2 separate regions of the Homo sapiens genome follow, and region 2 is linked to region 1. The links come from fine-mapping of genetic effects on gene expression. Tissue or cell type: gastroesophageal junction. Region 1 holds a variant in brackets; the other region holds the start of a gene. All regions are shown on one strand. Distances are from middle to middle.

Region 1 (2,757 bases):
GCGTGAGCCACAGCGCCCGGCCGACACAGTTGTTTCCTAGTAAGATAGGAAAAGATCTTTTTCTCATGGGCTATTATGTTGTTATTTGAGTTAATACAGGTAAAGTATTCCGAATAATGCCTTGCACATAGTGTTCAGAAAAGTCAGTCATTGCTATTGCCATTATCATCACAGTTTTTACTTCTGGCCAGTGTTTCTGTAAAGCCACTGTGGACCTTGTCACCTCAGAAGACATCATTCGTGCTTTAGCTTATCTAGATACGGAGTATCACTTAGTGTGTTGAAAATAATATCTAACACTTCTATAGAGATCAGCTTGTGTTTGGGTTTTTATTTGTCTATTTATTGTATTGTCCACAAAACTGAAAACTCCACACAGATTTAGAGGCTATTATAACTACTTAGGGAAAAGTACAATAAAACAGAATTAGGGAGACATAACTTGCTCAAAAATGCCTTCACGCTGGGGCGGTGGCTCAGTGAGCCGAGATCATGCCATTGCATTCCAGCCTGGGCGACAAGAGCAAGACTCTTGTCTAAAAAAAAAAAAAAAAAAAAAAAAACAACAACAAACCTCACATATTCGTATTTAAGAATATAGGAAACACTGATTCAGTTTCTTCTACTGTTCTCTCACAACACAGAATGCTACAGTTAGCCCAGAGGTACTGGGTTTTCCCACACACACCAAGCAAGCAATCCTGCCACAGACACCAGGTGCGTGTTCTCTCATTCCGTTCCATTTTGCCGGGACATGGCATCAGATCCCACACGTTGAGGGCTCAGTCCCACAATAGTGCACACATTTCAATGCCAGTCTCAAGCAGAGGTTGTGACTTGTGCTTACAGATCAGATATAAATCCAGGAGTCCCTTGACCCCCTCCTCAGGTTCAACGAATTTGCTAGAGTGGCTCACAAAATACAGGGAAACACTTTACATAGATTTACGTATTATAAAGGATATTACAAAGTTGACAGAAGAACAGCCAGATGGAAGGGATCAGTGAGGTGAGGCATGGGAGAAGGGGCGTTGAGCCTTGGTGCCCTCCCTGGGTGCACCACGCTGCAGGAGCCTCCCAGTGTTCACCTATCCAGAAGCTCCGCTGAATCCTCTCCTTTTGGGTTGTTATGGCGCCTTCATTACATATGCATGATTGCTTATATTACTGGCCATTGGTTAAACTTTTAGATAGCCTAAGTTTTGTTTTTTTTTTTTTTTGGGAGAGACGAAGTCTCACTCTGTCACCCAGGCTGGAGTGCAATGGCGCGATATCGGCTCATTGCAACCTCCGCCTCC[A/T]GGGTTCAGGCCCCGCCCCGGCCCCGCCCACCCTATGCTCTCAGTCCCTCCCAACGCCTGGCCTTTCCCCACCGCAACCCGCCCCTTTGCCTACTGCGCGGGCAGTTTCTTGCAAACCCGGAAGCAGATCTCTTGGAGTGAAGGCTGTTAGTCGCCGCGTGAGTTTCCCTCTATCTAGATTAAACCTGCGTTTCGGAGTCCCCTGCTCCTCCGTACCCGATGTCCGGGGGTTCGTATAGCCCTTAAAGTCCCCGCACGGCTCCCTCCATTCCATGTAAATTCAGACTTTGCCGCGAGACTCTGGGGGTCGCATCGCTTTGGGTTAAAATCACACAGGCTGGTCCTGCCCGCGGTCTTTCGGCCTTCAGACCATGCAGACACCTCCTTTCCTGCGCCGTTTCCTGCTTAAAACCCTTTACTGACCTGCGCCCTGTGAAGTCCTCATCTGCGAAGTGGGTGCAGGATTTTACCGTCCCCTAACCTCGCCCTAGTCAGCTACTGGAGCGTTAGCGCCGCAGCCCCAGTCCCGGGGAGGCCGCGCCTCTGCCTGGTCCTGGGATCCTGCATACCCCACCCCTCTCCTAAGGCGCCGTCGCCCCCCACCTCCCTCCTCCTCGTGCCGGGCCCTGCTGCTCCCTAGGCCTCCCCTTCGCAGTCACCGTTTCCCCTGAGCCCGCGTTGGGGAGGTGCCCGGGCCTTGTCCTGTGATACCCGGTGTTCTTGCCTGCCCAGCTCCACCCGCTGGAAAATGTGCTCCTCCAGGATCCAGGTGTCTTACTCCAAACCCTCCCTGTGAATGTGTGGGCCAAGGGGATCAGGAGACAGAGAGGGGGGCTGAGAGAAAAGTAGAAAAACGGAGACAGAGGAAAGAATGAGGGAAACCAGTAAACATGGCAAAGTAGAGGATGGGTCAGGATTTACAAAGAGACAGTAAGGGTGAAAGAAGTCGCTGAGAAAGTAACAGGATGGAGAAACAACTGGAGAAATGTAGAGAAAAGCTCGCTGTCTAGAGAGATGAAGGACAGCAAGGTAGGGAGAGGGGCAGCTCCTCAGACGGAGAGTTAGGGAGAGGAGGGGGTATTTGGAGCCAGGATAGACAGAGCAGCGTGGTGCTGGGACAGCAAGAAGGGGCAGCTGGTGACAAGGAGAGCAGAGGGAGAACCACAGCAGGGGGAGACCTGGGATCTGGGGGTGCCAAAGAGTGGGGACAAGGAAGTGAAACAGGGAAGAGGGGATTTAACAGGGAGAGCAGAGATAAGGGAAGAAAGAGGCAGAAATAGATGGAGATTGGGGACAACCAAAAGACGGGTGAAAGAGGAATAAGAGGTGAAACAAGTTGCAAGAATGGAACAGAACAAGTGGAAGAGAAGGATAGAGGGAAGGAGAAACAGCAGGAGAAGAGAGGGGCTCAAAATGAGGAGCAGAGACCCAGGCTGAAACACAGAAAAGAAACAAGGAG
Region 2 (2,628 bases), 550 kb after region 1:
GATTTCTCATTGGGGGGAAGATTTTTTTTGTTTTCCATTATATTTTCTCAAAATTTAAAGAGTAAAGAAATGAATATTTTTTGGGCCAGGAAGTGTGGCTTATGACTATAATCCCAGCACTTTCAGAGGCTGAGGCAGTCAGATCACTTGAAGTCAGAAGTTCGAGACCAGCCTAGCCAATATAGTGAAACCTCGTTTGTATCGAAAATACAAAAATTAGCCGGGCATGGTTGTGCGCGTCTGTAATGTCAACTACTCCGGAGGCTGAGACAGGAAAATCGGTTCAACCCAGGAGGCAGAGGCTGCAGTGAGCCCAGATCTCGCCACCGCATTCCAGCCTGGCCAAAAAAGAAAACTCTGCCTCAAAAAAAAAAAAAAAAAAAAATAGAAAAAACTAAATATATAAAAGAAAATAAGCCGGGCGCGGTGGCTCACACCTGTAATCCCAGCACTTTGGGAGGCCGAGGCGGGCGGATTACTTGAGGTCGGAAATTTGAGACCAACCTGACCAACATGGAGAAATCCCATCTCTACTAAAAATACAAAATTAGCAGGGCATGGTGGCACATCCCTGTGATCCCAGCTACTTGGGAGATAGAGGCATGAGAATCGATTGAACCTGGGAGACAGAGATCGCGCCATTGCACTCCAGCCTGGTCAACTAGAGCAAAACTCCATCTCAAGAAACAAAAAAAGAAACTGATAGATCTCTTACACAAATACGCTGGGACAACTAACTGGATATCCACGTGGAAAAGAATAATGTTGGATCCCTATGTAACATCATCAAAAATTTTATTATAAAAAAGAAAAGAGAGAGAGAGACGAGGAAGGGAGCCCTGCGGGAGGGGGTGTTACTTTGTCGCCCAGGCTGGCCTGAACTCCCAGGCTCGGCGATCCTCCCGCCGCTGCTTCCTGAATAGCTGGGACCTCAGGCTCCCACTCCCGCGCCCATATCCCAGCTGTGTTTAAGCCGCAGGTGGTGACCTCACCCATCCTTGGCCTGAGCACTCCATCCTGCATCTCAGGCAGTGGCCTGAGTCTCTAAAGCTGAGCACAGCGTGGACTCTCTCCCAAGTGAATGGAGAATAGAAAGGGAGAGGATTTCTATTCGGTTCTGTGGGCTATCAGCATGAAATTGTACCTTCCGCCCAGGCAGGGCTTTGCATTTCACATTCTAGTTTGCATCCCCGTTCCAGATAATTCCAGGGCTTTTGAATCATGCCTCAGCCTTCCTGGCCGGTCTCGCCTCCAAAACCCGAAAAATGCCTCTGCGCTGGGAACGATGCTGAGAGACTCACAGGTCCCGCCCTGGCCCCGCCCACTGCTGGTTCTAAAGGGGAAAGTCTCTCGGCTTCCCACCCCGCCCCTACCTCATCCAGGCCCCGCCCACCTCGCGGGCCCCGCCCAGACCTGGCTTCTGTACTGCGCGCGCACATGCGCGCAAACCCGGAAGCGGATTATGTGGAGTGAAAGTTACACCGTGGCGGTGAGTTTCGCTCTTCTATTAAGTCTGCGCTTACCAGGTCCCCGGCGCTGCTGTACCTGAGACGTGGGGTCCCCACAGACCTGGAAATTCTCTCCCTTCTTCCTTCACCCAGGACAAATTGAGACGTCCCCATGAGAGTCCGGATATCGCTTCCTTTTGGGTTTAAAGTCGCCCTGAGGCTGGGCTGTCCCCGGTCTTTCTGCTGTAGGGCGATGTATACACTTCCTGTCGCGTAGTTTTCCTGCTCAAAACTGTTTTCTGACTCCTCCCGCCCCTCGCTTTTTAAAGTCCTCACCCGAGAGCTGGATTCCCGCCCTGGGCGCCTCCCACCCTCGCCTTCGTAGGCCACTGGAGCGCAGCGCCAGGGCCCCAGTCCCAGGGAGGCCGCGTACTTTGCCTGGTCCTGGAATCCTGCAGACCCCAACCTTGTCTTAAGGCGCCGTCTCCCCCCCACCTCCCTCCTCGTGGCGGGCCCTGCTGCTCCACAGGTCTCTCCTCCACAGTCACCTCTTCCCCTGAACCCGCGTTGGGGAGGTACCCGGGGCCTGTCCTGTGACACGGGGTGTTCTTGCCTGCCCAGCTCCAGCCCCCGGAAAACGAGCTCCTCCGGGATGCAGGCGTCTTATCCAAACCCTCCTGTGATTGTGTCGGCCAAAGGCATTGGGAGACAGAGCAGTAGAAAAGCTGAGACAGAGAAAAGAATGAGAAAGACCCATAACAGAGGGCAAAGTAGAGGGTGGGTGATGGATTTGTCAAGAGACAGCAAAAGTGAAAAGAAAAAAAAAGAAAGCAGGAGGAGAAAAGTAACTGGAGAAACGTAGAGAAACCTAGATGTACAGAGAGATGAAGGACAGCAAGGTAGGGAGAGGGGCAGCAAAGAGGGAATCTCATCAGAGTGAGGGAGAGGAGGAGGGATTTGGAGCCAGGGCAGACAGAGCAGAGTGGTGCTGGTGGCAAGGAGAACAGAGGGAGAACCACAGCAGGGAGGACACCTGGGGATCTGTGGTTCCACATATTGGGGACAGGGGGTATAACAGGGAAGACGGAATTTAACAGGGAGAGCAGAGGATGCACAGAGATGGGAGAAGAGGCGGAAATATATCAAGATTGAGGACGATAGAACGATTGGGGAGAAGGAA

Evidence for each region. PIP is the estimated chance that this variant, and not a neighbour inherited with it, causes the effect.
Region 2: it holds the start of ZNF83, and the variant in region 1 is fine-mapped to the expression of ZNF83 in gastroesophageal junction (GTEx, PIP above 0.99).

Annotation. Positions count from the first base shown.
Region 1 is chr19:53,192,011-53,194,767 of GRCh38, reverse strand. It overlaps ZNF665 (zinc finger protein 665), which reads left to right and starts at 1,410. Exons shown (of 4, transcript NM_024733.5): 1 at 1,410-1,456. RefSeq lists an enhancer at 1,445-1,594. The variant A/T (reference allele first, on the strand shown) is at 1,299.
Region 2 is chr19:52,637,173-52,639,800 of GRCh38, reverse strand. It overlaps ZNF83 (zinc finger protein 83), which reads left to right and starts at 1,446. Exons shown (of 3, transcript NM_018300.4): 1 at 1,446-1,489. It also overlaps the pseudogene LOC124904757. RefSeq lists a silencer at 1,199-1,398 and enhancers at 1,609-1,728, 1,482-1,999, 2,000-2,518.